2 separate regions of the Homo sapiens genome follow, and region 2 is linked to region 1. The links come from fine-mapping of genetic effects on gene expression. A gene starts in region 1. The other region holds a variant in brackets. All regions are shown on one strand. Distances are between the middles of the regions.

Region 1 (16,096 bases):
AATACAGAATTCTAGCTCAGCACTTTGAAGACGCCTTTTCATTGTCCTAGGTTTTCCACAGTTTCTATTGAGAGGCTATAATCCATTTTTACTGTATTTTTTTCTTAAAAACTGTGTGTCTTTTTTGTTTTTTTTCTGTAGGTGTTTTTAGTATTTTCTCTGTATTTTGCTGATCAGTAAGTTGATGTATGCATGTAGGTTTAGCTTTCTTTTTATTTACCTTGCCTGGGGTTCATGAAACATCTTGAATTGAGGGATTACTACCTTTCATTAGATTTGCAAAATTTTCAGCTATTATTTCTTCAACTATTGCTTTTATCTCATCCTTTCATTCTTCTCTTTCTAGAACTCCAATTACATGTGTGTTATGACTTTTGATCATGTTCTACATTTTTCATTCTCTGTTTTGATCTTTCCATTGTTTATTTTTCCTCTGTGGTCCATTTTGGACATTTTCTAATGACAGATCGTTGGATTTACTATTCTGTCTTCCAATCTTTCAATCTACTGTTAAACCCTTCAAATGGGTTCTTAATTTTAAGTATTTATTTATAGTTCTAAAGTTTTTATTTGATCCTTTTCATAGTTTCTATTTCTCTGTGAAATATCCCCAAATGGATAAAAATATGATAAATACTTTATATTTTTATCTGTCTTTGTCCATTATTTCCTCTGTTGGTTTTAACATAATAATCCTAGCGATTTTGAAGTCTTCATCTAATTACTTCAATATATAGACATCTATCTTGTATTTTTATCTCTTGAGTATTGATAAATTTTATGTGCTTCTTGCCTATCTGGAAATGTTTATTGTCTATGTTATGAACTGAATGTTTGTGTGCCCTCAAAATGCATATGTTGAAGCCATATTCTTAGTGTGATTTTATTTGGAGATAGAACCTTTCCAAAAAAGAATTAAGGTTAAATGAGGTCATAAGGATGGATCAGATCCAATAAGACGAATGTCCTTATAAAGAGAAACACTGGAAAGCTCTCTTTGTCTCTCCACACACTCATACAGAGGAAGTCGTGTGAGCACATAAAGAGGGCCGCCTGCTGGCCAAAAGAAGAGGCTTCAGAATGAAACTTTCTTGGACTTCTTAACCTCCATAAATGTGAGAAATATATTTCTGTTGTTTAAGTTACCCATTCCGGGGTACTTTGTCATGGCAGCCTGAGCAGACTAATTCAGTAGGTTTGACATTGTAGATGATGGTTATACAGGCTCTGGATCCTGTTAACTTTTTCAAGAGTGTTGTATTTTGTTTTGGCAGGCTGTTAATTTGCTGGTGGATTAGATTGCTCCTGTAAAGGTCTCATTTTAGTCTCTGTTGTAGGGGGTTGTCTTTCAGATCCACCCTTAGTCCCAGGTTACAGCCCTTCTGCCTAAGGCATTAATGGTCCTCACTCCTACTTCACAAAGATTTCTGAACGCTGACTGGGCTGAAACTCGGATGTCTTCTCAGCACTCAGAGAACTCTGTAATTCACATCTTGGGATTCAGGAGCTTTCAGACTTTAGGCAGCTGTTCTTTTTTTTTTCAGTCCTTTTTTTTTTTATTACACTTTAAGTTTTAGGGTACATGTGCACATTGTGCAGGTTAGTTACATATGTATACATGTGCCATGCTGGTGCGCTGCACCCACTAACTCGTCATCTAGCATTAGGTATATCTCCCAATGCTATCCCTCCCCCCTCCCCCCACCCCACCACAGTCCCCAGAGTGTGATATTCCCCTTCCTGTGTCCATGTGATCTCATTGTTCAATTCCCACCTATGAGTGGGAATATGCGGTGTTTGGTTTTTCGTTCTTGCGATAGTTCACTGAGAATGATGATTTCCAATTCCATCCATGTCCCTACAAAGGACATGAACTCATCATTTTTTATGGCTGCATAGTATTCCATGGTGTATATGTGCCACATTTTCTTAATCCAGTCTATCATTGTCGGACATTTGGGTTGGTTCCAAGTCTTTGCTATTGTGAATAATGCCACAATGAACATACGTGTGCATGTGTCTTTATAGCAGCAAGATTTATAGTCCTTTGGGTATATACCCAGTAATGGGATGGCTGGGTCAAATGGTATTTCTAGTTCTAGATCCCTGAGGAATCGCCACACTGACTTCCACAATGGTTGAACTAGTTTACTGTCCAACCAACAGTGTAAAAGTGTTCCTATTTCTCCACATCCTCTCCAGCACCTGTTGTTTCCTGACTTTTTAATGATTGCCATTCTAAGTGGTGTGAGATGGTATCTCATTGTGGTTTTGTGTGAGATGTTATCTCATTGTGGTTTTGATTTGCATTTCTCTGATGGCCAGTGATGATGTTTACCAGATGTCTCAGAGACTCACCACGCAATGTGCAGCCCTGAAATTAGCCAAGATCCTAGGGACATTTCCATGCAAATATCTGAGCTTCTGTCTCCGTGGCTGCTGCCCTTTCTGATAGCCTTCTGAACCCAGTTGCTTTAGTAGCCCTGAACCCTAATCTCTCACTGATGTTTGGGCTTCACTTTCATGGATATGGGCCCTTAAAATGCCCCCAACAAGAAAATTTGTGTGCCTGTGAGGCTAAACTCCAGTACATCCCCTCTGTCAGATGTGCAGCCCTGCCTTGGTTGTTTGCCAATGCTTCCAAACAGCTATTTTGTATATTTTGGTTAGCCTTTATAGTTGTTCCCAGTAAACAGGAAAGTTCAATCTCAGCTAAAATCAGTCTTGCCTTTGCCTAATATTTAACTAAATAAATGGTAACAGCAATTAAATACTCATCCCAAAGTCAAAAGATAATCATTAGTAGCAACAAAATAAGGAAATGAGTATAATTTCTTGCCATGTAACTTCAAAATGAAATAAAGAAAATAAACGATCATGATATAGAAAGTCCTGGCTTTCCAGAAGCAGTACTGATGAGTGATCAAATCGTAAGTATTATTTCTCACCAGTTAAGAATGTCTGCAAATTTGGAGTGAAATGAACTGAGCAACTACACTTACCCTTTTCTGATGGGAGGAGAGGGCAGAGTGAGTAGTCATAGTAGAAATGGCTTGGGAGAGAGAGTAGAGGGCTCCAAGAATGAATGAAGAGTGCAATCTCAGGCTTAAGGGAATCTTTCTGAAACAGTATGTGATCCTGATGGCCTGCATTAAATCCTGAGACAGAGTCTTTAGTAAAACCTGAGAACAAAAGCAGAGCATGTAACCTCTCTCAGAGGCTGCACAGAGACTCAGAAGCCCTCACCTTCTCATCTCGGGATGGTAGACAGAATGCAATGCTCACCTTCAAACCATTGCTTTATAGAAAAAACAAACAGGCCTCAGACAAGGTAGGAATGAAGTCAAGCACAATTAACTGAATTTGTATCATAGCAAATATGAGTCTTGATCTAAAAAAGAAACCAATAATAAATATAAAAACACACTACACAGGAAAAAAAAGGAGGAGAAGGTCATTGTAAGCAAAAGTAGGCTAATAACAAATTTAAAAACAACAAGAAAAGGAAGAAACAGGTATTCTCAATTATACAATACAGCACCTGCAAGACCTTCTTGAAAACATTGCTTAATGAAGATATCAAGGGATGAATCAAAATAATCAATAATAGAAAAAACATGATAAAAGAATCAATGAAAGAAATTTATTCTATTTAAATATAGAACTAAGTTTAAACCACTTTGGGAATGAGAGTTATAAGTGGAAAGTGAATGTTACAAATCTTGACAATGAACAAACGAAACCTGTGTAAAAATATAGAAGGAGGGAAGAAAAAAAGAGACATAATAAAAGAGCTATTTTCTTCTTTTTAAATAGCAAACAGTCAGTTGATATTGACTAAAACAAATATATGTTTAAGCATAATGAATTCAGATCTGGTTTTATGTAATAATTCAAACTGTAAAGGAATCTTTAGGGTGAATATCTCATGAAGTAAGTGACTATCTCATGAAGTGAGTAAATATCTAAAGTTTGGTCAGCCTTTAATGTTCACTTTAATTTTGTTATCTTCTGCTTCATTAAGTGTACTTTTAAATTAAAAATAGCATCTACAGGATGATGACACTTAGCATATCTGTGCCATTTCACATACCTGTCCATCAGGATGTCTGTTTTCTACAATATCTGGAATGATGATGGTCCCCTTATGTTAACAATGGTTATTATTTCTGGATAGTGTGATTCTGGGGATGATTTTCTACATCTTTGTATTTTTCTACTGTTTGAATTATTTATAACAAACATGATTAACAGCTACACAGACATACACACACACAATTCCAGTTTCTAACATGCTTTGTGGTTATATCAACACTTCGTCTACTTGTTTTGTGTTAGAGGTTTTAGCTGAAGCCTAAGGCCAGGCTAAGAGACTTGAATGTGACAAGGACTTCCCCTTTCCCCAGGAGAATTCTTGCCCAGCAAACATATGTCATGGAACCGTAAGTACAAAGTGTCCTCTGCCCTTCTTACTGATCCATGAGGCAGGCAGCACAAGAGAGCGTGCCTCTTTTTGCTGCTTTAGAGACAAAGGAAGCAGCCCGCAGAATATAGGATACATACGGAAGATGTAACACAGTGGGAGTCAGGCTCCAAGATAGCTACTTCATCTATCTTAGAGCAGCACATCAAGAACTGCAGATGTGTATGCAAATGCCTCCCTAGTTGAGGGAGGAATGCTGTTGTTATATGGGCTAAGCAGGAAAATGGAGAGAATCAGGTTCCATAGGCAAGTTCCAAAAGAACTACTACAAATGGGACCTGGCTTGGGCCCTCTTCGAAAACTTACTATTATTATTTTTTTCTTGAGACAGAGTCTCTTTTTGTCACCTAGGCTGGAGTGCAATGGCACGATCTTGGCTTGTTACAACCACCGCCTCTGGGGTTCAAGTGATTCTCTTGCCTCAGCCTCTGGAGTAGCTGGGATTACAGGCTCCTTCCACAACGCCTGGCTAATTTTTATATTTTTAGTAGAGATGGGGTTTCACCACGTTGGCCAGGCTGGTCTCGAACTTCTGACCTCAGGTGATCCGCCCATCTCAGCCTCCCAAAGTGTTGGGATTACAGATGCGTGCCACCACGCCTGGCTAATTTTTTGTATTTTTAGTAGAGACGCTGTCTCTACCCATGTTGCCCAGGCTGGTCAATAACTCTTATTAAATAAGAGTGGCAAAGTGGGAATTCCAACTCAAGTCTCTGTAAATAGTATATTTACAGATATAGGGTCACAGATTTTTTTTTTTTTATTAAATCTTGCCCTGAGTATAAGATTTAATGGGGGAAACAAGGTAACATGTGAAACCTGAACACCTTAATGCCACACGATTCCATGTAATTGGAATTCTGTAAGATTCTATATAATGAATCTGGGTAATTATTATCCCATCCCAGACTTCAAAGATCTTCTGCATGCTAAGACACCAAAGTCTCTCTCTTTTCCAGGCCTCTTTCTTAAATGTCGCAGCCCCATACATTCAATTTCTTACTGGATGGTCTATCCTAAATCCAGTATGTAAAAAAGCTCAAACATATCCTATCACAACTTCTTCTTTATCTTAATTCATTCAATTCAGTAGGTATTCTTTAACTACCTACTATATGCCAGGCTGTAGGTATACACACTGTATGGATGATGCTGGGAATACAGAAGTCACACATGGTACATTCCTGGCTTCTGGGAGCTCACAGATTAATGGAGAGGACTAAGGGGCAGAAATGAGTACAACACAAACACAATGATAAGATCACAGGGTCCTGTGAGATACAGAGGGAGGCATCTAATCCAGATGTATGTGGTGTGGAGGGAGGGGTACATTAGTGATCAGGAAACTCATAAACCATACAATGTTTGAGCTTTCTCAAAGAACCAGCAGGGCAGCTCCTGCTCAGCTAGGCAACTCCTCTTTTTGCCATAGATCTAGCTGTTCCATTCAGCCATTCACTCGTGGCTGCAGTGACCTTCCAGGTCAGTCTGGACTCTGGAAATTGCCTCCATGGTTACCTCCCTTCCCATTGATGACATTCTACAGATCGTTCAGTTTGCCCTAGGCCCCTGTCTGTTCTATATAACACTGGTTTTCTGGAAGCCGTTTGGTATCTTGGTAAGAATACCCAGATTTATAAGGGAAAAACAATAACATAAGTGCCTCCTGCTTCTTTGCTCAGATGTTTCAGTTTTTGGGAGATCATTTAGCCTCTCTGAAGCTCACCTCCTCATCTGTGAAAGGCTAGTAATTATAATACTAGTTCTTACATGAAGAGAGGGTGTAAAAATCAAATCAGATGAGGGATATGAAAGCAGGTCCAGCACAGCTCGCATATTAATTGTCTTTGTTAGGGTCTGAGCATAATGGAGTATGACTCCAATGCAAATCCTATAAATGCTGATCCTGTAAGGAGGACGAGAAGCTTTTGGAACTTTCTCAAATATATGAATAGAATTTCAATTGAATTCCTTGTTTGTTTTTCCTAGCATCTCTCAGTTCCCAATCCAGTCTGGATTTCATTCCAGCCATTTACTAGCCTTGCGTTACCTTCTCCTTCAGTTTCCTCTTGGGTATCATGGAGATAATTAAAGATACTTCAAAGAGATATTGCGAGGATCATTTGAAATAAGGAATAGAAAACACCACGTAGTGATGCTTTCTTAGGCAAGGTTTTGACCGAGGAAAGCCGCCCTTCGGTGGGAGCCTGGAGGCTTGGAAATAACCAGTGAAAAAGGGAAGCCCGTCTTGGGTGCAGCACGTTAAAGACCCAAGCTCGCAAGCCTGGGAGGCAGCGCGGCGGGAGGAGCCTGCCCCTGCCCCCAGTAGGGGGCGCCGAAGCGCCGCACTGCAGCATCCTGGCCGCTGAGCGCAGCGGCCTTGGCCGGGCTCAGCTCGCGTCCTGCCGCAGTCCCTCCGCCGCTAGTCGGAGCGAGCGCGAGTGAGGAGACCCCCGCCGGGCCACTGGCACTTGCTTCTGCGGCGAGTCCCACCCACGACCGCAGCCCAGCAACTCGCAAACGCAACCTGAAGCCTGGGCTGCGCAGTGTGGGAGGGCTTCGCGATCTTGGGGGACCCATTCCGAACTTGCAGAGGACCGTAGCTCTCCTGGCCTGGAGAGTGTGAACAGGTGAGTGTCACGCACGTGTCCAGGCAGCTCTTTCGGGACGACTTCCTGCAGACCCATTCCGAGCCCTGAGCGCGCTCGGCCTCTGAGTCGGTCCTCTTGGTCACCGGGTTCTCCTCCCAGGGCGGCTTTGGGGTTCGCTGCGAGGGAGATGTGAACACCAGCAGCCTATCTTGACAGGGCTCTCCTAGCTGAGAGGGAAAATGCCCTTTTGACTTAAGGCTGCATTTTCTCCCTAGCCTGAAAGCAAGTGACTTGCAGTCCACAATGGATTTGTTTATTCTTGCAAGATACCTGTTGAGTTCAGAGCAACATTAAATAGCCAAGGGGCTTATACAATTATCCTGGTTTGCTGTGGGTACTGCGTAGTGATAAGAAGAGGAAGAATTCCTAGTAATGAGACCAGGAAAACTTGATTTCAGAACCAGAGAAGGGGAGGCCAAAAAAGAAGAGAATCTCATTTCCAGGCCTAGACTAGGGTCTTTGCTTCCCTAAATAGCTACACTTGATTTTGATGAGCGCATGCAAACAGAAGTTCCAAGCATGATTACCTTATAAAGACGCTTGCTTGCCCCACCCCCAAGAGGAAGTAGAAAGCATGAACCTTGATAAATATAGCCTTGAGAATGATTTATTAGGAATGAAAACTTTCTTTAAATAAGTAAGTAAATAAGGTTACAGTTATCTAAATATCATAGGTCTAACAGAGTGTAAGCTCTTCGAAGGGAACTACTTTTATTTGTATGTGCATAGCGTGAAAGTGTGGAATAAATCAATGAATGCATCACTAATAATACAGGATTTTAGCTAGCGTTTTTCCTTTTTCCTTTAATTTATGTTTAGGGAAAAAAAAACCTACACCTTCAAACTAAATAGGTATGATTTTACCTTTAGAGTGATAGCAGCTGAGATGTTTTTGTCCTAATAAGCACCATCCACATAAAAAGTGAATGGCAAATTTCAGCCCTACTCAGAATATTTCAGCAGAACATTAGGACAAATGGATTTTCTTAGATCCACGTATGGAAGCTCTCAGATTATGAATTATTTGGAACATCAGAAACTTGGCAACAGTTTACTTATTACAACAATTTACATATTTATTTTTGTTTTCTATCTTGTCAAATGTAACTTTTCACATTTTCATGTGAGAAATAAAATGTTGAAGAACTCCTGTCAGTTTTGTGTCTTCCTTTAAGTGATTTTTCTAAACATAAAATTAGGTTGACAATAACCAGCTGTATCTTTATTAGGTTATAAATGGAAAAAATAGCCCACACAATTTCTCTTTCTTATGTGAAATTCCTATGCCTCTGGGGCCATTTGGGAGTTACTAAAAAATGTGACTTGTCATTTTTTTAAAATCACATTTGATGGCTACTTTCATGAAACATTAATCAGACAGATAATTACTTGCATTTTATATCCATGTATATGAACAGTTTTGCATGAAACAAAATTATTGTTTATACTAGCTGCAGACACTTGCGTGTTCAATGTTTCAAAGAAATACTTGCCAGCACCTCTTCTCATTTATAATTTAAATAGTTAATATATCTCCACATATTATGTTTCTGTGATGAAGCCCTGAACCTTAAAAACATAGGGCCTTTTCTTAATGAATGCATCTAAAGTGACAAATAAGGAAATCTTTTTATCTTTAGCCAAAAATATGGGACTGGACAAATTGCAGATGTTTAAGCTTCTGGTTTTTGCTAATAATGATTACTTAGACACTTTGTCATTATTGAGGATGAAGTAAACAATAGCTAATGTTAATGTTGATTTTTCCTTCCTTCAGAGGAAGCTCTGGCACTTTGAAAATCAGCAAATACAAAACCTTATTAGGTACAGGATGATAGCTTAAATACCTAAGGAAGAAAACAATTACATGATAATGTCTTTGTAGAAATACTTTTTCAGGCGGATTTTCACTTTTTAATTTCTCTCTCAAGAAGCTCTTTGTAAAAATTTATAGATGGAAAAATCTGGCAGGAACATTTAACACATTTAGATAACATATTTGTGTTTAAAACATCTTTACTGCCTTGAAAATGGAATGAATTATGCAGACTGGTGTGATTAAGATTAACACGGGTAAAAGTGCTGTGCTGTATTTAGGTTTAAGCCATTGATTGCAAATGTTCGGAATGAGGGGGTCTGCAGTCCGTGTAAAAGATGTGAGGCTTAATGTGATTGGCTGTGCTACAGTATAACCATGGTGGGCAGATTAACGATAGTGAAAATCTCAGGGAATTTACACCGGGTCAGTTTGTCAGGTCATATCTCAAAGTGGAATGCAGTGGACACCATGCTTTTAGAGTGATTAAGATGTTGAGGAGGCAATGCACATGATGAAAAAGGGAGTGAAGGTCAAAAAAACATAAACGAGAGTGTACATTCCGGGAAGAACAAGTGGACAGGCTGGGCCTCATGTTCCTAGAAAAAAGAAGCCTAGGATGGAGCAAAGGGTCCTACTAGATGCTAGGATCCTTGAACGGTTCTGAGTGAAAGAAAAAGTTGACTTGTTTTGAGTTATTTCATAGAGAGAAATGAGGACAAATGAGTAGAAGCCGCAGGGAGACAGTTTAGAGCTCAATATTAGAAAGATAGTTCCTCCTAATTGGAGAAATGAAGCAGCTTTCAGAAGTAATGAGCCCACCTTTCATACCTGGAAGTGGTAAGTCAGGCATGGAATATGGAATGATTGTTATGTCCTAAGGAAAGATTCTTGCTAGAAGAATGGCTAGAAGATTTCTTCAGATGACCCCCACTCCAGCCCCCACCACCACCAAAGCTCTTTCCAAATTTACGTTTCCATGATCCTAAGAACCTAGATGTCACTCCTAAAGCACCAAACTAAATAAGATGTGCTTACTTTGTACATAATGTTATTTCCCAAGCTTTAAGACAGCACTATAAACAAATTTACTTGAAGTCATCATAGAAAAGGAATAACTTGGAGCATGGCATTTATCGTTTTTGTACCAGGGCATTGTGTCCAGCAAAATATAGAAATGTAATCTATGTATTATATATTGATTCCTAGAACATGTGTATCTGTATCTGTCACAGGAATTCATCATGTGATCAAGTGTGAATTGAGAAAAAATTTAACTTTGAGATGCAAAATTGAATTGTGTTGCATTGGAGTTGACTAATATGAATGTATGTTATTCAACCCAAAGAGACATGAAGAGGCCCAAAAGTGACTCTCTCCATTGCCCCACTGCATGTGTTTGTACACTGAATGCTTACAGATAGATGGTAAATGTGTGTATTCACTTTTACTTTCAGTTACTATCAAGAATCAATACCTTCATAAGAAAATTTCTTGAGGAAGTACTTTAGAAATGCTATTGTGTGTGATAATGCACGTTTTAGTACCAACCAGATCCAAATCCAAGTCCTGAATCTACCATTTATTAGTTAAATCATTTACAGTAAGTTACCATAGACTTCTCACAGGATAGTGGTAAAGATCAAACCAGAAAATGTTGAAAAAGTGAATGGTGGCTGGCATATAGTAGATGCTCAATAAATATTAATTCATTTTCCAGTCACTTATGAATTCCCAAATTTCTTTTGTTTAAGGATTGTGGACTCTTCCAAGATTCACAATGATATGGTGAATCCAAAGACTGGAACCAAAAAGATTTACTCAGTGCTTTAGTTTTAACAACAGTAAATTGTCTACCAACACCCATCATGGCTAAAAGTGCGGAGGTCAAACTGGCAATATTTGGGAGAGCAGGCGTGGGCAAGTCAGGTAAGATTTTCGTTGTGGTTGTTATAGTGTGTGTGTGTGGGTGAGTGTGTTTCTTTATTACTGTTTCTTGGGATTGGGCAGGTGAGTAGTTGGTATTCCTCCTATTTTCATTTCTTACTCTTTTAGATAAAGTCTCTTCATCTAGAACTTTTATTTTGCGTAATCGACTGTTACGTATCCTTTTGCTTATTTATGCTGAAGTAGCTTTGCTGATAACACACAAGATAAAGGATATATCAGAGGTCTTGGCATTCTGATTTTTAACAACCTCCAAAGAAATCAGATGATGGAAATTAAAAAATATATATTTGTTCTTTTCTCTATGTATGAGATCTTGAGGGACTGATTTTACATCTCATTCATTTTGATATTCTCAGCAAACAGTCCAGTGTCAAGCATGTGTTAGGTGCTTTAAAAATGCTTAAGTGAATCTAGCTTTATCAGAAACAGAATTGCATTATTGCCAAACACTCAAAAATCCTGAGAGGATTCCTGAAACTTTAGGAGTGCATGCTCTCAAGCAAGATAGCTATTGCGAATGCCTCTGCAGTGAATTTAAATTAGCAAGTTCTGGCTAACATCAGTAATTCAGAGACTTTGTTCACTATCTGAGAAATCGCTAGCAGACCTTTAAGATTAAGGGTGAAATGGTGGAAGTGAAAAATGTACCTGCTATCTAATTTGAAAAATACATCTTCGATCTTATAATTAAAGAATTCCAAAGTCAACGTTGCTGAAACATTAGGGCAGCATGACCTTTCAGGGTAACCTCTTGCCTTAGTCTCTTACTGGAGGAAGGAACCATAATTAACTGTACACAGAGCTTTTGGTTCTCAGGAAAGGACTCAAACAGATATCTGGTAGGTGCATGTTTGTAGAGGGAAACCTGTTTGGAAATAAACTGTATAATCCAATACATTAGGTAATCCACAAAATCTTAGACAAATACACATAATTGCTTTTTAATTCTGTGACCAACCTTTCTTTTCTAACCTGCTGTCTGGTTTAATTTCAGCAGTAATCTTCCCTCTTCTAAGTCTTTGTCTCTCGTTTTTCTTTTAATTTTCTCAAGAGTACTCTTTCCTGCTACCACCATTTTCTTCTGTTTGGTTTGCTCTTGCCTCTGGCAGAAACCACACAAGGAAAATAGATAGTTGGCAAGGCTAAGAAACTGCCAGCCTTCACAAGATTGAAGATAGTTAAACTCCTCCCTGTTAATCTCCTCAGTGTTTCCTAATGGCGTGAGAACCTAATTTCTGTAGCTGGTAGAAGGATCTGGAGAATGAGGAAATGATTCCTGTGAGTGGAGGATGGAGGGAAGGCAGTGTGGGAGAAGATGTGCACTGCCAGCAAGAGCTTGTCTAACTCCTTGTGAGTGCAGGGTCTAGGCTTGAGGCTGACCATTTATTCCTTCATTCCAGACTTCCAAAGGCAATAAGGGAAGGAGATTTTTTAAAACCTTGTATCATTTGTTAAAATAACCTACATGCGATTTAAGAAGTCAAACATAAAAATGAAAACTCAGCTGAGAGAACCACGTAGCTGTACGTGCGTCCATCCGTTTCCCATCTTCATGATCTCGGAGCAAGCTGGGTGTCTCCTCCTGTCAAGGCTCATGCATCAGCCTGAGCTGGGATGCCTGTTTTCGTTGCCTTTCCCCACATTGTTTCAATTATTCCTCTCATTCTCACCTGACCATTTTTCCTCACGCATGTCTTCGTCCACTGCTTCATCTTTTTCTTTTCTTCAAGCTTATTGAATATGGGTTCTTCCCTTACTGTCTTATCTTTTTTTAACTCTCCCATTCATTGCTTAAAACATAGCCATCTTCTGTTACAACCATGCTACTGAAACTGCTTTTGCTAAGGTCACTACCAAACAATGACCAACACATCTAATGATCATTTTCCAGTTCTGATCTTCTTAGACTTCTTTCTATCATCACACAGCTGCTTATTCTTTCCTGAAATTCCTTCCTTCCCAGGCTCCCATGACATCACACTCTTTGGCTTTGCTGCTCTCTCTCCGTAGCTCCTAACTAGCTGTTTTCATGGGTTTGCTCTTCGTCTGCGCACTTCTCAAAGTTGAAGCTTCCAGGGTTCTATATATCATCCTCTTGCGTCCTTACTCCATACACTGCCCCTAGAAGTGCTACTCACACCCAAAGCTGAAGATAACACCTGCACAGAGAGATCAAATTCTGCTGACCTGAATTTTATTTTATGTAAAATGCACAGGTTGAAATTGCTCACTAAGTTTCTTTCCAACTCTAACATTCAAATCTTCTTTGGACTGTTTTCTCTATTTGCCTTGAATACATTCCACCATTTGTGTTTGTTTTCATTTAGGTGAAAATGACAATGACAGACTACATATCTTTAACAATTGCCTTTTTGTCTGTCATCTATAAACAGACAGTGTTTTCCTATGTCAACATTAAATTATTTTTCTGAGACCTGTAACTGCACCTCACATTTTAAAAGTAGCACTCGTTTGATGCATGGGTGAAAATTGTGAAACCTTTTTCCATAGTTCAGTGAAAACGACCACAAACTACTTCATATCTACCAATTTTATTTTAAGACACTGGGTCTCCCTCTGTCGCTCAGGCTGGAGTGCAGTGGCATGATCATAGCTCACTGCAGCCACCAACTCCTGGGCTCAAGAGATCCTCCCACCTTGATCTCCCCAGTAACTAGGACTACGAGTGTGTCCTACCACACCTGGCTCATATGCAACAATTTTGAAAATAGACTGCAACAATATTGAATTTATGTTGATTCTGATTCTTTGTGAATATGGCTATTTGATGTCTCTGCCTCATCATTGTATCACACATTTATCTTTCTACTGCAGAGACTTTATCAGTCTTATAGGTAACTTTTGCTTGTTTAAGTCTGCAAGAAATTATACCTGCTGGAATGTAATTCGGTAGCTCCTCACTGAATTGTTTCAGAGGCTTAAGTCTTACCTGTCCCCTCTACTTTCCCCACACTTAATACCAGTAGGAATTGGGGGTAAATAAGACCATATTGCCCATTTGCTAACGAGGAGTCGTATAGCTTGGAGTTAAAGAGTGTGAGCTTTTGTTTGCCCTGTGAACTTGGCAACTTTGGCAAGTTACTTAACCAGTCGATTTCTTCAACTATGAAGAACATATAATAGCATCTCAGTTGTTACTAGGATTGAATGAGTTGTTACATGCAAGTGTTCCTGGCACATTGCAAATGCTCAAAATTAGCTTATATTATTATAATTTGTTAAGGTATGCTTTTTTAATTTGTAAGTTCCACAGTGAAAACATACAATTAAAGATATACTTGCATTCAAGTGAGTATTTTGGTTTTCACTAAGTCAGACAGCTTATAAGGTAAAAACTCCACACACGCGCACACACACACACACACACACACACACACACACACACACACATACTTTCTCTGTTTTTCTCTTTCTTGAACCTAAAATCTGGTTAATGTCAATTATAGCTTGACCACAGATGATCATAACAATACTTCGTATGGCTTATATTTAATCTTGTAAAAAGCCAGAAATATATTAGTGTCACCAATAAATTAACACTTTTAAATTTGAAAGTGCTTCTGGTATGTGGCAGATGGCTTCCTAAGCCCAGGTGATAGATAGGCCGTCTATATTTAAAACAGAATTTAACATTTACCAGAACTTTTTCATTGACAGTTTGACCACAGACATGTCAGCAAAGGCAAAAATTTAATAATGTGCTGATTACTAAGGAGCACTGATAAAACATGTGAGGGATGTGTGTATGTGCACGCACATGTGTGTAATATATAAGTGTTTACATGGTCTGCTGTATTGGGGGAATTCTTGTTCCTTCTAAGTTTATCTTGCAGTTCTGTCTTCAAGTGAGCTTGCTGGCATAGGGATAGTACAGTGAACTCTGTGGGGACGCTGCAAAGTGTAGGGTCATGATTTCCCAGCCCTTTCTATCTTTTCTTGCCCCAGCCGGGTAAACATTTACTTTCATTGGCTAAGGGTGAAGCACTAATAATGTGGCATGCAAGGCACAGATTTCCTTACTTGTGTGCATCAGCCTATATTTTGACAAGCTCCAAGTAATTAAAGTGATAAGACTTGCCAATAAGCCTAGAATGCACACATTTTTATTTAAATGCTTCTTGTAGTCGTATTATTCAGATTTGTAGTAAGTGTGGGAGGGGGCTGATAGAGAAACAACTGAAATTGTAAATTTAGCTTCACAGTTGACATTCTCATTTTAGAACTGAAATATTGTGTGCCACAGCTAACTATATTGCTTGAAAGGGCTAGTCTTAAAGTTAATTGAGTAATGCTATCCTGTAATTCAAAAGCCAATTGGTGCACTCATCCATGAAGGCTTAAGTTCATAGACTCAGATTGCCAAGCTATAAACTGGATGCCAAACACAAACAAGCTTGTGATATTTTTTTCCGTGGCACAAAGAGAAGTGATTTTTCATCCTATTTTTTGTTCTTTTTCTTGTCTGCTTTTTTCTCTGTCAATTATAAAGAAGTTTTTAAAAGCTTTTTTCATCTTATTTTTAAGTGGGACAGGGACTATTCTAATTTTAAATGTGACTTTTAAGATAACCGTCAAAACCTGCTTTAAAATATATGTATACTTCAGGCTGAGATATATTTATGAGATCTCACATATATATAATAAAAAAACAGAAACCTCAGTCGCATCTTGGGTAGGTCAGTTTTCTTATGCTATAGAACTACATTTTGTGTTTTAGAACTTCTTCTCTATTTAAGTAGCTATATACCAATTTTTCCCCTTCCTCAGACTAAGTGGCATAGTAGGATGCTTTCTGAATATTGTTTTCAAAGTACTTTTAATAGGAGAAAGAAAAATCTAGGGGGTTTGGGATGTGTAAGCATCTCATAATCATGTAAGTATTTTGCATGTTTTATAGTTATATAAAATATATGCAAAACTTACTATTAATCCCTAATATATCTATGTTTGCTTAAACATAAAAACAATCTGCCCTAAAACTCAGTGACTAAAATGGACTTTTCAGGAAGATATAAAAAGTTTATTCGTGGCCGGGCGCGGTGGCTCACGCCTGTAATCCCAGCACTTTGGGAGGCCGAGGCGGGTGGATCATGAGGTCAGGAGATCGAGACCATCCTGGCTAACAAGGTGAAACCCCGTCTCTACTAAAAATACAAAAAATTAGCCGGGCGCGGT
Region 2 (16,096 bases), 62 kb after region 1:
TTGTCCAGAGTCCCAAAATTAAAAAGGAGACACTGAAATTCTTATTTTCCCATTCTTTTTGCATAACACCTACATAGGATTAAGGAATTTGATTCAATTGGATGAATTGTGTGAATATTATGTTCTAGTTCTAAAGAATCTTGCAAGCCCATGAGGTTGGCTATTTATTTTCAATACCTTTCAATCTAGAAGAAACCCTGGGCTTACTCTCTAGGCCTCCTTGCTACTCTGCCCTTGGCAGCCACATCCTGGCCAAGGCAGACAGCAGGGCTATCTCATGCTTTTAAGAAGTTGATAACAATAAAAATATCTTTGGAATTTCTTCTCAAATTAGAAATGAGGGTTCTCATGGAGTTAAGTCTTTTACCCTGTGCATATGGAAATGAGGGTTTTGAATTATCTCTAGTAGTGATAATGATTATACATAACCTGCACAACCTCTCCCAGTCTCTTATACTAGTGACCTAGGTGTACCTAGGAAATGGTCAGGGGAGCTTACAGTCATGGAGCCAATTGTGATCGAAGCACATCCATGCTCAGCCCATCTTCCATCTCTAAAAGGTTGACAGGGAGAGTTGGAGAGGATAAGATCCTAGGATTGGCAGGTTTCAAAATTAAGAGTGAGGCCGTTAGTTGATCTCAGAAAGTATTTAACTTTCAGGGAATTTAAAAATGTGCCATAATTGGAGTGTTATAGTTATTAATATGATTGTTTAACCTCTTTGGCTCTCCCTGGTACTTACTCCAGGGCATCATAACCCCATTTTAAAACTTCATTCTGCTAACCTACCAGGCTCATCTGGGGAGAGTTGTTAGTTAAGGCTACTCCAGTCCCTACATGCTGTAAATGAAGGTAAATTTCTCATGGTGAGTCTTACCACCACCCATACCACCTAAACAACTTGCCCAAGGGCAGGCAGTACATGAAATGAAGGAGCTGAGAATCCCACATCACCCATTTGTGAGTTCCCTTAGGGAAGCATAAAGTGTATATTTTCTGGAAGTACAATTTATTATGTTGTTTGAAAATGTTACTCTGAGCAACAGATGTTATTTTTGGAGCTTGAGCAACTTTATTTTAGTTAAAAAAAAAAGTCTTGGCAGAAGTTAAAAGATTGTTGGCTAGAAGAAGTGTTTGGTACATGAGTTCCAATCTAGTTTCCTTAGTTGTACGGAGACAGTTTACATGCAGAGGCAGAAATCCGTAATTTGCTGTCTTTGAGTGGTCGCCGCTCAAAGACATGCTGCTATGACTAATGCAGCCAGGGCTCAGCAGGAGTCCTTCCCTTAACCTTCAGCTTTAAAGTGCCACACGGACAAGGCAAATGACTGAGAATCTGATCGTGTCCTCAGAATCAATTTGGGTTTTGGTACATTTTGTTCCTACTCTTCATTTAGCTCTGAGTCTGCTCTGGAGGAGCTGTTTGAGACCTCAAAGAGAGAGCACAACCTTTAGTGCCAAGAGGATTATTGACAATTTGCTCTTACATTAAAATTTCCAGAGCGGCACCCTGGCTTAATGAAGAGAGTGCTCCACTGGAAAACTTCAATAATACCCTTTGGATTCTCTCCAGGTGCAAAAGGTCAATTTTCCAAAGGAAATTTTGTTTTAACTCTATCTTATTCTCATACACCTTTGACTATTTTGTGCTAGTTAACACCTTTTGTGGGTGGCAAATTTCTGAGGGAGAGATAAAGAAGGAAAATTCAATGTGACTGCTTAGTGGACCATGGGTAATCCAAGCCCAGCAAAGTAAACAGTGGTTCTGTTGGCCCCCTAAGACAAAGTCTATACAGCTCAGGGTATGGCAACTAATAGAAAATTCTGCTGTTGACTATATCAAGGCGGTCCAATGGGTGGGTGGAAACACAGAGCCTGGAGAAACTTGCTAGTGGTGATACAGGACGTCTAATAGGTGGCTGCACTGAAGCCCCAGATGATCAATCCTTTTCGGATCAATATTCTAGCCCAAAGTTGGGGGTGCAAGCCTTGTTCATGTCCCTTGGAAGTGGGAATTAATGAGCTTCACAGGCTGTCAAAGTCTCAAAAGAAGGGAGTAGGTTCAGAGAAGGCTCATGTGGTAAGCTGGACATTAGCTTTATGGATGTCCCAAATACTTAGATTGTTTAGGAGAAGTCTAAAGTTTGGTGAATAGGCAGTGAGTTTTGAGCTTACTTCAGAAGCTCTAGAAAGGAGGATGGATGAATCTAGGCCCCACAAATGGTAATGGAGCCCCTATGTAAAACTTGCTCCAGTCAGGACTGGCTCAGAGATCAGTGAGTCTTCTGGAGTCAGACCTTATTAACTGTGCCTTGTGCTAGTCAATTAACTGAGTAACCTCATCCATTCTTGCTCTTTCCCTGCTTTGCTCTGTTTTAAATAGAACTGCATTTCCTTGTCTCTCTTCTCCTCTTCATTTCTGGCACATTTGGCCAATGTGAGGTAGTAGCAGAAGACTGCAATATGGAAAGGAAAAACCACAATGTTTCTCTCTCTCTCCTCTCTCCACTCTCCTCTCTCTCTCCGCCCTACCCCTTCCTGTAGTATTTCCTGTGATGTTTCCATTCCTGTGGAGTAATTGGGTCCCATCTAGAGTTCTAATTACCTTAAGAAAGCTCCTCCTTCAATGATCGTCTTTCCCACTAGGCAGTCTTCACTGACTCCAGCTTCTCCTGGACAGCTCCAGATGCTGGGCTCTGGTTACCCATTTCCTCCTGTTGTTTCATCACCTCTAGTTGTGGTTACAGTTTTCTCCTGTTGCCTTCCATCTCCTAATGGCTTCTCAGGTTTTTCATCATTTTGGATAATAATTTCCCTTGATTAAATGCATCGGTTTGAAAGACGTAGAGTGGTTTCTGTTTTCCTGGCTAGACCCTATGATACACTCTCACTGAGCAGATCTGGATTCGCAGCAGAGACCATCTGACTATTAAATTACTTTCTTTCCTCTATTCCACATGTATGTCTTATCCGCTACTGGAAACACTTCCCCTATGTAACCCAATTCTTCACATTCATGTCGAATCTTAGTTCTTTTGGGTCATTGTTCCTTTGCTTTCAAATCTGTATATTCATTGGAAAATTAACAAGGGCAACGTTTGAAATATGATCCAGGAAAAATGACTCTGAGTCACAAAATGATGTTATCAATTTTAATCTTCATCTCTTCTTCTTCCCTGCTCCCTGAGTCATCCAATTTTTCTAGCATATTATTTATTTCTCTTTTTTCAATATCAGGCCACCTGGCAGGGATAACGTCTGCTTGGCTTTTGTGTAGTGCTTCTGGCATTGTTGACTCACTGCAAAAGAAAGTGCTATAGTCTCCACCTACATTTTGTGATGTTTCAACAAAAGGTTGAAACTAGGGATCCTCGTTAACACAACCGGGGGCTCAAGGGCAAATAATACTCATATTGCTTCAGCAAAGTTCATCAAAATTCTTAGCAAAAATCTAGGCTTAACCTGAACATCTCCATAAAACCTATTGCTAATAGGAAGAATGGAAACTCTTCATAATATAAACGTATGTTATAGGACTCTAAGGTCTAGAGCAATATTGTAAGGAGGTCTAGGTTCCATTTTTCACAGTGGCAGGAATTAGCTGTGTGATGATAGGCAAGTTTACCTTTCTGAGATAATTTTCACATTTGTGAAATAAGGGAATTGGACTAGGTCATCTTTAAGAGCCCAGAAAAATAAAGCTGAAACCACACCGTAAATTTATTTGGTTGTGTTTTTAAAAAATTCTTCATGTTATATTTTCCTTCCTTGAGAACAAAAGAGCTCTTCATGTATGTAGAAGAAAGGCTTCTCTGCTGCCTTTTCTCACTTCAATACTCCCACCCATTGTAGTACCATTTATGTTTTGACCAATGGATGTATAATGCTTATGTATAATGGGACATGTATGATAATTAGGGATCTTAATTATTCCTTCATCATAAAAACAATGCTATAGGACCTGTCTCTAAGAATGAGAGAAAACTCTAATGGGGTTCTTAATTATGGATTTTAAGCCTGTATAGTTAATATTTATATGCCCAAGCTCTCCCCAGTCCTCTTAGCTGGAGGATTTATCTGATACATTGGAATATTTGAACTCCTGATTTCTTTTTTTATTCTGATTGATGTAAGACATACTTTCTCCTGGAGGCAGTCCTTGGCCAGGGCTGTGCCTGGACCTTGTTTCACTCAGTGCATAACCAGAGTAGTCTGCCATTTCAGCAATGAGATTTAGGTCCTTCGGCCCTCAAACATTCCTCTTCCCATTGCTTTGCTCTTGTTCTGTGTAAGTATTCTGAAATTCATAAGAGATTCATTTTGATTAAGGCAGTAGTCTCATTTTTCAAGTCTTTCTTTAGACAGCACTTCCTCAGGGAAAATTTCCGTTCCTACCACTAGTCTAAGTTACAATGTATTTCTACAATGCTCTCGAATCTCCTTACCAGGTAAGGATACTGGGTTTAAATTTTGCCTCCACCTCTTAGTAACTTTATGAAAATTATTTAAGCTTCATAAGACTTAATTTTTAAACCTGTGAAATGGGAATAATAACAGAATATACTTTGTATGTTTTGGGAAGAGGATTTTTAATGCAAAATACTTAGAACAGTGCTTGGCACATGGTAAATGGTCAACAATATGTTTTATTATTATTATTATTATTGTTATTGGTAGTATTGATTCCTTAGTTATATATCTTTACCACCAGATAGTAAGCTGCATGAAGGCAGAGACTGTAGGTCTTGTGTATGGTTCAAGTCCAGGCTCCTAACATAGGTTCTGATTCAAAATAGGTGCTTGATAAATAATCAATCAAGTGAATGAGTGAGTCTCTAAAATCGTTTTCTAAAATGCATGTGCTTCCAGGAGAATTAATTGAGTGCACCAGCTACTCATGGTGAGTGAAGGGGATCTGGCTGGTTCCTGAACAGGCAAAATGTAAATGGGAAGAAGGAGGAAGGAAGGTCCAGAGTGTTTGGTGAACAGGTCTGTGCACTGTACAAGGGGCTTTCAGGAACTAGCTTATTATTCCTGAGACTGGAGAGGACCTAAGGAGAAGATAAACATTCTCCAAAGAATACACTTGTTGACTGATGTTTTCCTTGGGATGGTCCATATGTACAGATTATACTGTGTGACACAGTGGCCTACTTTATTACTTTATTTGTACTAGATAGAGCAAAACACTAAGTGATGCCCCTGTTTCTTTCTTTCTTTCTTTCTTTCTTTCTTTCTTTCTTTCTTTCTTTCTTTCTTTCTTTCTTTCTTTCTTTCTTTCTTTCTTTCTTTCTTTTTCTGAGATGGAGTCTCACTCTGTTGCCTAGGCTGCAGTGCAATGGCGTGATCTCAGCTCACTGCAGCCTCCGCCTCCTGGGTTCAAGCAATTCTCATGCCTCAACCTCCCGGGTAGCTGTGACTACAAGCATGTGCCGCCACACCTGAGTAATTTTTGTATTTTTAGTAGAGACGGGGTTTCACCATGTTGGCCAGGAAGATCTTGATCTCCTAACCTGATGATCTGCCTGCCTCGGCCTCCCGAAGTGCTGGGATTACAGGTGGGAGCCATTGCGCCCAGACGATGCCCCTGTTTCTAAGGAGTATTATTCCCTAAGGCTTTAATGCTTATTGAGCAAACCCTGATGTATTTTTCCAATTCAATTCTTACATCTCCGTCTCCACTATGCTGCCATCCAAGCTGTGGGGCTGCGTTAATTCTTGACTTCCAGCATTCTGTGTAATGCCTTCAAATGTCTTTGGACAAAGCATGATCATAATTAATATAATTATTTTTCATATGCAAAGTATTTTATTGTGGCAGTATCTCTTTTGATCACTAAAATTATCCTGTGGGATAAATAATTTAAATATTACTGTGATTTCTATTTTAGACATGAAGAAACTGAGATTGAAAGGTTAACAAATCTAAGGCTACACTCCAAATTCTGCATACCTTTTGCGGTGTGATTTCTTCTTGTTTCCTTTATAGATGGAGCCCTTAACAAAAGTTTTGAAAAGCCCTTAACAAAAGTTTTCTAAAAAGCCATGTTTCAGCGGCACCTGAGATGCTTTGCACCTGCTGCAATCCCTGTGTGCCTCATTTCAGCTTGTCAAGTGGTCGGTACCCGCGCATGGTTACTGTGCTGCCCAGCGAGGGTCACAGTGCTTTGTACTTAGAATTCGTGAAATATACACAATCTAACACTACTGTTTTCAGTACAATATCAAGACAAGGATTCAAAACAAAAAAAAATGACCAAAATGTGCACATATATATATGCACATATATAGAAGTGTACAAATAAAAACTGCTCAACTGTGGAGAACTGTACTTAGCCATTATAATGAAACAGATTTGCTGTTTTATACAAGTAGAAATTTGTTATAGATACTAAATATTCGTGTTCATTTTTCCCTCTATTTTCCAAAATGTATGATAATCTCTACTGCTTTCTTCCTTCTTATATCAACTATGGAATATCAAAATTTTCTTAATTGTCTTAGGCCAAGATGCATTAAATCTCACCCTTTTCCATTGTTTGGAAGATAAATTTGGTTGGGATTTTTTGTTGTTGTTTTGTTTCCATTAAGATTTTTTTGTTTGTTTGTTTGAGACGGAGTCCTGCTCTGTCGCCCAGGCTGGAGTGCAGTGGCACAATCTCGGCTCACTGCAAGCTACGCCTCCCGGGTTCACACCATTCTCCTGCCTCAGCCTCACAAGCAGCTGGCACTACAGGCGCCCGCCACCACGCCCAGCTAAGTTTTTGGTATTTTTAGTAGAGACGGGGTTTCACTGTGTTAGCCAGGATGGTCTCGATCTCCTGACCTCGTGATCTGCCTGCCTCGGCCTCCCAAAGTGCTGGGATTACAGGCGTGAGCCACCGTGCCCAGCCCTCCATTAAGATTTTTTAAATTGTATCAATAGATATAAATATGTCCAAATCAATAACTTTTATTTGAAAACTAAAAATCCTGAGAGGCCAAATACAATGTTTAAAATATATAGTTAAATCAATAATAATTCTCCCTTCTGTAAAAGTAAATAATTATCTTTATGTGAGAACGAAAAAGGTATTTCTGTACTAGTAAGGCAGCAAATTATGCAAAAGCATGAACTACTATTGTGGTTGTAGGCCACAAATGGTAGGGACCTATCAAGAGGACACAAGAACCAGCTTGAAAGGACTCTCCCTGGTGACTTCTGAGACAAAGTAATGTCAGTAATGGATTACAATCCATTGAACAAAAAAAGAATACATGGTTCCCTGTTGATATAAACAGTAAGTGTATAAAAAAATCAACAGGGAGAAAGACAAGTTCTTTCTTACAATAGAATATCAACCAATAAATGTAGAAGAAATGACAAGTTAGAAAACTATCATTCGGAAATTATCAAAATAATTGATTCAGGCAGGAGTCACCAGTGGAGGCTGAAACTAATGAGTGAAAGTGTGGTGAGGATCAGGATATTTACATAGTTTCAGAATATCTTCCACAAATTGCTCATTAATTGTCAGATAGAAAAATAATAACTTTACATTGGAAAATTCTAAAAAAATGCCACCTTAATAAAATAAAATAAAATAATGCCACCTTAATAAAATAAAGTTCATGTCACCAATGATGGGACATGAACCAACAACATATGCCTCCTGATATGAAGCACTAAGAAGGACACACATCGTTCTGTAGCATTTCTGCCCCAAAATACCTAATCCGAATCTAATTATGAGGAAGTATTAGACAACTGAGGGACATTTTAGTCTATCTCTCTTGAAAAACTGTGTACTCTTCAAAATTCCTTATACTCTGCAAAAATGTCAAAGATGAAATATCATTAAAAAATGCTGAGAGGCCAGGCACAATGGTTCACACTTGTAATCCCAGCACTTTGGGAGGCCGAGGTAGGTGGATCGCTTGAGCCCAGGAGTTTGATCCCAGCCTGGGCAACACAGTGAGACCCCATCTCTTAAAAAAATGCAAAAATTAGCCAGGTGTGGTGATGTGTGCCTGTAATCCTAGCTACTTGGGAAGCTGAAGTGGGAAGATCACATGAGCCCAGGAGGTCGAGGCTGCAGCGAGCCAAGATCATAACACTGTGTTCCAGCCTGGATGACAGAGCGAGATTCTATCTAAAAAAAAACAAAAAAACAAAAAAACTGAGGAACTGTTCCAATTTAAAAGAGTGTAAAGAGTTATAACAACTAAATGCTATGTTCAGTCCTAGATTAGATTCTGGACCAAGGAGAGGAAAGTAACTAGAAAGGGCATGATTGGGACAATTGAAGAAATTCAAATATAGACTGTGGATTAGATAATGTCATTGCATCATGTTAAATTTTCTGATATTGATAATTATACTTTTGTTATCCTACAAAATGTATTTATTATGAAGTATAGATATTGAAACACTTAAATGTAAGGAGGCAAAATGTTTCCAACTTATTCTCAGGTACAGAAAAATATGAATGTGTGTATATATATTTATTTATACATAAATATTTATGTATAGAGAGAAGGGAGAGTGAATGATAAAACAAATGGGAAAAATGTAAACAGTTTGTGGATCTGGATAAACAGAATATGAGAGTTATGTAATCTTTTCTCATAGCTTTTTTCTAAGTTTGAAAATATATACAAAAGAGTGACAAAAAAATGTTGAAAAGCAAAATTTTCTCATCAGTAAAGGCAGTCATTTACATTGTACTGTGATGAAAAAGAAAAGCCTGGCTTATTCAAATAAGCAGCCAAAGCTCTTATTTCCTAGTCATCAGTTATCTTTGCGTGCTTTGAAGTTGGAGTTCTCTTTCATGTTTGTATTGTTTTTATTTGTTTGTAAGTATAATGTGGGAACCAAAAAGAGTGAAAATGGGACACTCTGGTAAGTTATCTCTACCACTTTAGGGGACAGGAAGCAGCTGACAAGCTTTAGCACTACATTTTCATGGTTGTTTCCCAAGAATGGCCATAAATTACATCCTTCAAGTCAGTCCCAACTAGTGGGAATTCATATGAAAAATTACTTGCTG[G/A]TTCTCAAGCTTCTTGCACGTCCCTCTTGACATTTTGTCATAGGAAAACTGGGGGTGGATGGATTGTAAAATATTTCTCAACATTACAAAACATTTTAAAGCTGATACCAGACCTACACTCATATCTGCTGATTACAAATAATTCTAAGCTATTCTGGTATGCCCTGAGCATCTGTCTTATATGCAAAATAAGTGGCCTCTTCTGTTTTCCCCTGTCTTCTTGAACTGTCTGTCTCTTTTCAAAAACTGTGTATTCTTCAAAATTCCTGCAATGCCGAATGAAAAACGGAGGCCATCCACTACAGTGGAAAATGTAGAGCAACTCCAAGAAAAGAGGCTGGAAGAAAAGACAGGCTTAGAGATGTCTGACAGACTTGAAGATGGTTTCCATTTTCCCATTTTGCAAGAGGGGCAATGGATCCTCTAACAACAGAGCCTGAGTTAGTATGTTATCATGTATTACCTCGTTTAATCCCCTCAATATCTCTATGAGATAGGCACTATTTTTATCCCTATTTTGTAGCTCAGATACAGGCTTAGAGGTTTAGAGAAGTAAATAACTTGTCAAATGTGAGTAGTAGGGTTGAGATTTGCACGAAAATGCGCCTGACTTCAGGGTCTGACTTAAGCTTAAACTGCCTTGTTTTATTGATCATATTGATCACTCTATTTCTTTCTCCTGAGGACTCGCAAAGCAATGATAATACCATTCTGCTCTTGCATCATTTGTTGCACATTCTTGTTTAGAAAGAAAATACTAACAACTATTAGAGATTTTCTGAACCTAGTAATTTCATTAACAAGCATTCCCCAAGTCTACAGGGCAAATTTTTTGATACTCACAATGTTACTTCTTGTGAAAATTTTGAAGTGATTTCTGAATCATCAGAGAGATAGAGATTAAAGTGACACTGTTTTAAAAGTTGGTAATTATCATACAATTGCATGAAAGCTGATGTGGTATTTGTGGTAAACTTCCGTATTAGGATGGGTAAGCCTGTATGGCAGGGTTCTTAACCTGAACTCCAGATCCAGCAAAGGGTCCACAGGTAGATTTCAGGGGGTCTGTGAACTTGTATGGGAAAACATTTCATCTACATTTTCATGCACCCTTAAATGACATTTGGCACTGCCTTCCATGATGAATGTAGAAACAAATCACAGTGTTAGCAATACCTGTGACTTTGTCCCTAATAGAAATGATGGATATTTCCATTCGTATCAGTTGTTGCTGATATCTCAAAATGTTATTTTTCGTCATCATTAATGTGAAATCATAATTAATAAGCTCAAGACCAGATTATATTGAACATATTAATAAAGAATGTAATTACTATATCACCTATTTATTTTAAAAAATGTTTTTCTAACAGTATATCAATATTTATAAATATATATATATATTTTTTTATTATACTTTAAGTTTTAGGGTACATGTGCACTTTGTGCAGGTTAGTTACATATGTATACATGTGCCATATTTCATCATAGTTGATTTTATTTGTAATGACATATATTTTATATATATTTAAAAAGTATTATTATGAGAAATAGTTCAAAGGCTGTGCACAAATGGTTTACAGCACAAAAGGGGTGAAAGATCCAGCTCTATAATATAAACTTCATGGTAGCCCTAGTGGAGAATACCCTTGCTTAACAACTGGCTGTTTTCAGAGTCCCCTGGGGGCCCTGCAGTGACTCCAGGAGTAGAGAAAGGCTGTAAATGCTAGAACAAGATAATTGTCAGGTACTACCAAGAAGCCCTACCCAGCCTTCCCAATTAGAAGACAGGAGTCCCCCAATCCCAACCACTTTCAGGTCCTAGTTTCTGCCCAACCCCATTACCTGTTCTTCTTACTCAATTTTAATGAAAGCAGCTCTACTGGCAGCAACTTCATTGTGACCCCAGTGCTCTGGCAAGCTGGGCCTGTGTCAGCAGGCCACAGGGGTGGATGAGAGCCAAGACTTTTGTGATTGCCTCTACCCTCATTTTCCTGTGGAAACACAGCTCAGAAGGACTATGCTGGAGGGTTGATCAGCTTGGTTATGTATTTGCTTTGCGGAAACCTTAAGTTGTCCTTTTATGTGTCACTTTCTCTCATTTCATTTTTTTAATCCTTTATTTTCCAACAGGCAGGTTCTGGTCACACCTACCCAGGTGGCACCAGGTGTGTGCATGTTTTTCCAAAAGTTACAATGCAGCATAGACACTGGAAAATGAAGATGAAAAAACACAGTGGTGTTAGATTACTTCATATACTTCAACACCATGCCTGCTTTTTCCTTTTTTTAATTGCTTGTTTTATATTCTTTATTTAGTTTTTTCCAGTCTGAATATCTCTTAGCTGAGTTTCTTATCCCAATTAATCATTTTATACATACACTGGTTTCTTTTCCAAGTCTCTTTGTAAAGCAAGAATCAATATGAGGTGTCAGTGTCTAAAGCCTTCACACTTAGCAACTTAACATTTTAAAAAATGAAAATATATAATACTACAATTTCATTTAAATTAACTATTCTGAAGCTCCTCCATCAAATATTAGGAAAGACCCTTTTAAAGTTTAATACATTTTTAAAATTCTAGGTATGAAAATTCTGTTTACATAATAGTCTTTAAGTTGCTGTCTCACCTAAATAAGACACAGAGGCAGTGTTTATGAATATGATTGCCGAGTGAGATTGAGACAAATTTCAACCTACATTGATTGTCCTATTTGGCAGGAGACCAACGAGCTGCCACATAATGTACGCACCAGAAGACTGGCTATGTTCTTTGGCCATCAGCGGATGTCCATGGTTGCTGCCTATAATTGCAGTGTTTTTCCCATTCTGCAAATTTCTCATTAATCAGGTTACTTTAGCTATTTGGCCAAATTTTCCTCGAAGAAAATGAAATACAATCAATCCCTGATTCTTTTCTGATTATTAGAGACACTGCTCTCCTTCATAAGGAACAATAATCAAAGTAGAATTTATATTTGGCTTCATAATGCAATATGTGAGTTTTTCCAACAGATTTGCCCTCTTAATTGCTTTGGTCTGGCAAACTTTAAAAGGAACTTGCCTTACGTGGATGGCAGTATGAGGTTGTCCAGAACTGAACCGGGTGGTTGGCAATCTGAACAAAGCTTCTGTGCTTTATTGATTGCCAGGGAGACTCGGGGGCTAAATGGCAAGCCAAAAGACAAGGATTCAGAATATATAACTGTACTAGTTTGCTAGCACTGCCTCAACAAAGTACCACAAGCTGGGGGGCTTAAACAACAGAAATTTACTGCCTCATGCTTCTGGAGGCTAGAACTCCAAAATCAAGGCGTCAGAAGGATTGGTTCCTTCCAAAGTCTGTAAGGGAGGATCTGTTCCCTGCCTCTGTCCTAGCTTCTGGTAACCTCAGGCCGTCCTTGGCTTGCAGATGGTGTTCTCCTTATGTTTCCATATCATCTCTCTGTGTGTGTCTGTCTCTGTGTCCAAATTTCCCCATTTCATAAGAACATAGTCATATTTAATCACTTAGGGCTTACTCCAATGAAATCATCTTAGCTTGATCATCAACAAAGATCTTATTTTTAAATAAGGTCACATTCACAGATACTAAGATTAGGACTTCAGTGTCCTTTGAGGGGACACAATTCAACCCATAACACTATCTATCTTGAAAAATCACCAGAGAGGATAATTTATAGCCATTGGTAAAATTTATGCAAATCATACAATTTCCCTTCAGTCAATGCATTTATTCTGGGTGCCATATTTAGATGATAGGCTGCCAAAAGTAATGCACCGTGAATATTCTTTTTCTTTATATTATAAAAGCTATTCAATTACTCCTGGATTTTCCAGGAACTATGGTTCTCTAGTTCCTTATAAATCTCAATGGTATTTTTCTGAATCTTACTGCTTTCCTTTTATTTATAAATACTAGACTCTCCCACTTTAAGCAAATTTCTAAAGACTGGGGTAAAAGATCTCTTTTGTGAGCAAAGTGCATGTCTAGGGCCCTGTTATTTAAGAAATTTAAGATCATCAATTTCAAACATTCAAAGCCTATACTGCTGGTTCATATTTTTCACTATCCAGAACAGTAATCTTCACAATGGTTAGCTGTGTTCTCTAAAAGTCGCAGATAATTGTTATCACATTTAAAATCAAGCACCCATCACAACTCCCCAGTTCTTTCTTTTAGGAAAACCTAAAGAAACCTTGGATGACCTTAAGACTCTATGGAAAAGCTGGAAAAACACTGACCCAGAAAACAAATGTGTAACAAGTCACATTTTTTCCATTACTTAAGGGAAATTGTGGTGCGAATTTTTTTCTTAATCTCTCTGCTAAGTGTAAATATGTGACTCACCCGAACTACCTCATTCTTAGACCATAAATATTAGGAGTGATGACTTATAAGGGGCTCATGTTCATGTGTGGTAAGTAAATACTTGTCTGCACATATTAATTTAACAAGAAAATGGCATTTTCCTAAGTAGCATAACATCAGAAACAGTAGAGAATTTAATATAAGTAAAAAGCAGTGTTATATTTTAAGAAAATTACTATGATGAAAGAATTCATTTTTTTCAAAGAGTAATATAATAATATTAGGCTTTAATACCTAAGAACATGCATGCTAGATCTGGTTCCAATCCAAAAAAGTTCTATGAAACTTCAAATACCATGTGAAGGTTAACTTTTAAAAATACATTTCTTCAGAGCAAATTTCTATTCCTAGTCCATGCGAAACCACAGGGTGGTGCTCCAGCTGGACTGGTTTCCTCAATTCAAGTTATCCTTGTCCAGTTTCCTTCTTAGGGCACTGCTACATGAAAACCTGATGTGTTCTGTGTTCTTGCAGCAAACTCCTACTGTGTCCTATCTTGGCTCAGGCAGGACAAAATGAAGCTCTCCATCTCTAGGAGGTGGCTTGCTTCAGAGCCTTCTCTGTCCAAAACAAGAGTTTTTTCCATATTGTTTCTCTCTAGGCTTTTGAAATTAGAGGGGAAACACTATGGATAATAGCTTCAGAAAATATGAAAAGCTCACCTATTACAGCAGATGGGACTGAAGTATCAGTCCATATCTAAGGCAGGTGAATTGGTGCATTTGAAGCATTCCAAGTCAGTAGGACAGCCAGAAATATGAAATGAAAAGCACTAGTTTTCCTTAGCAATGAAATTTTGACTCCTATGACTTTGCTAATGCTGTGTTCTGCTTTCCTTTCTGCCTATTCTATTTGTACAACCTTCTGTGCCTTCCTCAGATGGCTTTCCAAAACATCTGTGGGCAATATTCCCTTCACTGAACAGCAATGGTACTTTAAGTGCAAAACAAAACAGCATTTACCTTTTGCAATTTATAGTTCCTGGGTTATTTCATGTGCCTTGTGGTTATCTCAGGAGCCCTTTATTAATCTCCGAACTGTAGGCAAGAAGGTGGTCTTGTTGTCATGGTAATAACTTCAGTACTTAGCACATGGAACGCAGCATTTATTGTAAAATACTTTTCCAATCAAATGGTTGCAGCAGTTTTAGAAGTCATAACAGTAAGGGTAGCATGCAGTTCATGAATTCCTTCATCAGGAGGAAAAGACTGACCTGATTTATAAAGGAAAAGGAAGCATAATAAAAGTGGAATTCTGTTAACCTAACCATATTAGTTCTCTTTGCTTAGAGTTAGGGGGTGTCCAATCTTTTCCAAGAAAACTTTGTATATTCTGGCAGTGCCCTCTGGTGGATGATTTACTATGATCCACTACCATTCAGTTCCTGGACATTACATTTCACCTGAAAGATTTCTACCTTTTGTTACCACTTAGCATTTTTCCCCCCATCTCAAGATGAATAGTGTTTTCTTTCAAAGTTTCTTGAATATCTACATCTACAATCTACAACAAATGCCACTGGATTGTGGTTTGTAAGGAATATCTAAGGTGAATTCCAGCAAAGTGAATATCAGTTTCTACCACTTATTACTTTCAAAGTCATTAAATTGCTAATATGGGTGCAATTTGGCTGTTGCGTGGAAACACTTGGCTTGGGTATGTTTATGTAAATGGTTCAAAGCTGTGGACTGTGTATCTGGCAAGCTGCTTCTAAGAAACAAAGGAGAAATAGGCATGTTTTCCATTTAAAAGACATGTGGTTCTTATTGACTTACCGAGATTGGTTTTTGTTTTTGCTTTGTTTTATTTTCAAAGTCAGTTTTCCACTCTAAGATTAAGTGTGTTCATTATAGAAAACGTAGAAAATACAGAGGAAAAAAATCACCCATAGTCACAACAAAACCAAGACTGATTTTGGATGTAGCCTACGGAGGTAGAATGCTCCCCTGGGGTAGATTTTAGAAACAGGCTGTAGTGGACCAAAGGGGAGCATGGCATTAAGTTTCCACAAGCTGTTTTCTGTATTTATAAAGTACAATAACAATATTGCATGTATTATGTACTTTCATTTTCTGTCTCAAATTAGGTATGGAGATTGCATAATAATAATAGCAGCCATTTATTTAGCACAGAATTTCAAAGCCTAACCCTAGAGTTGCCCTTTGCCTCCTGGTGAACAGCAGTTCAGCCCACACTCAATTCTTCCCTATAACCTCCCACATCTCTGCCAGGATTTATTCTTGTAATAGTAATAACTGTTGTTTAACAGGTCCTCATTACACAAGAGAATGCAGCGATTAATATGCAGCCTGTTTGAATTCCAATTCTGGCTTTTCCACCTAATAGCTGAGAGATCTTGGATGAGTAATTAAAGTCTCTGCTTCAGTCTCCTTCTTTGTAAAATAAAGGCCCTGCCACACAAGGTTTTTTGGAGAAAACTAAGTCCCTAGAACAGATCTGGGAACATAAATGTTAGTTATCATTGTTAACATATTACGATGATATATTAGACATGATACTAAGTTCCTTATTACGCCATTTACTCCTCATAACAATCCTATGAGTTAGATATTCTTTATCCCTGTTTCAGGTAATGAAAATGAAACAGAGAGCTCCAATGACTTGCCCAAATCACACGGCAAGTTACAATGTTGAGCCTAGATATGAGCCTACATTTGACGGTCTATAAAGTT

What was found. PIP is the estimated chance that this variant, and not a neighbour inherited with it, causes the effect.
Region 2: its variant is fine-mapped to the expression of RERG in tibial artery (GTEx, PIP above 0.99).

Annotation. Positions count from the first base shown.
Region 1 is chr12:15,212,212-15,228,307 of GRCh38, reverse strand. It overlaps RERG (RAS like estrogen regulated growth inhibitor), which reads left to right and starts at 6,891. Exons shown (of 5, transcript NM_032918.3): 1 at 6,891-7,113; 2 at 10,705-10,879. The coding sequence starts at 10,819. It overlaps LOC124902886, which reads right to left and starts at 7,640. Exons shown (of 1, transcript XM_047429948.1): 1 at 6,330-7,640. The coding sequence starts at 7,063. The coding sequence ends at 6,746.
Region 2 is chr12:15,150,340-15,166,435 of GRCh38, reverse strand. The region is part of intron 2 of RERG (RAS like estrogen regulated growth inhibitor); the gene reads left to right. RERG-AS1 (RERG antisense RNA 1) reads right to left here and starts at 14,513. Exons shown (of 3, transcript NR_046559.1): 1 at 14,366-14,513; 2 at 12,096-12,196; 3 at 11,153-11,240. LOC124902887 (a long non-coding RNA gene) reads right to left here and starts at 3,861. Exons shown (of 3, transcript XR_007063223.1): 1 at 2,607-3,861. The variant G/A (reference allele first, on the strand shown) is at 9,031.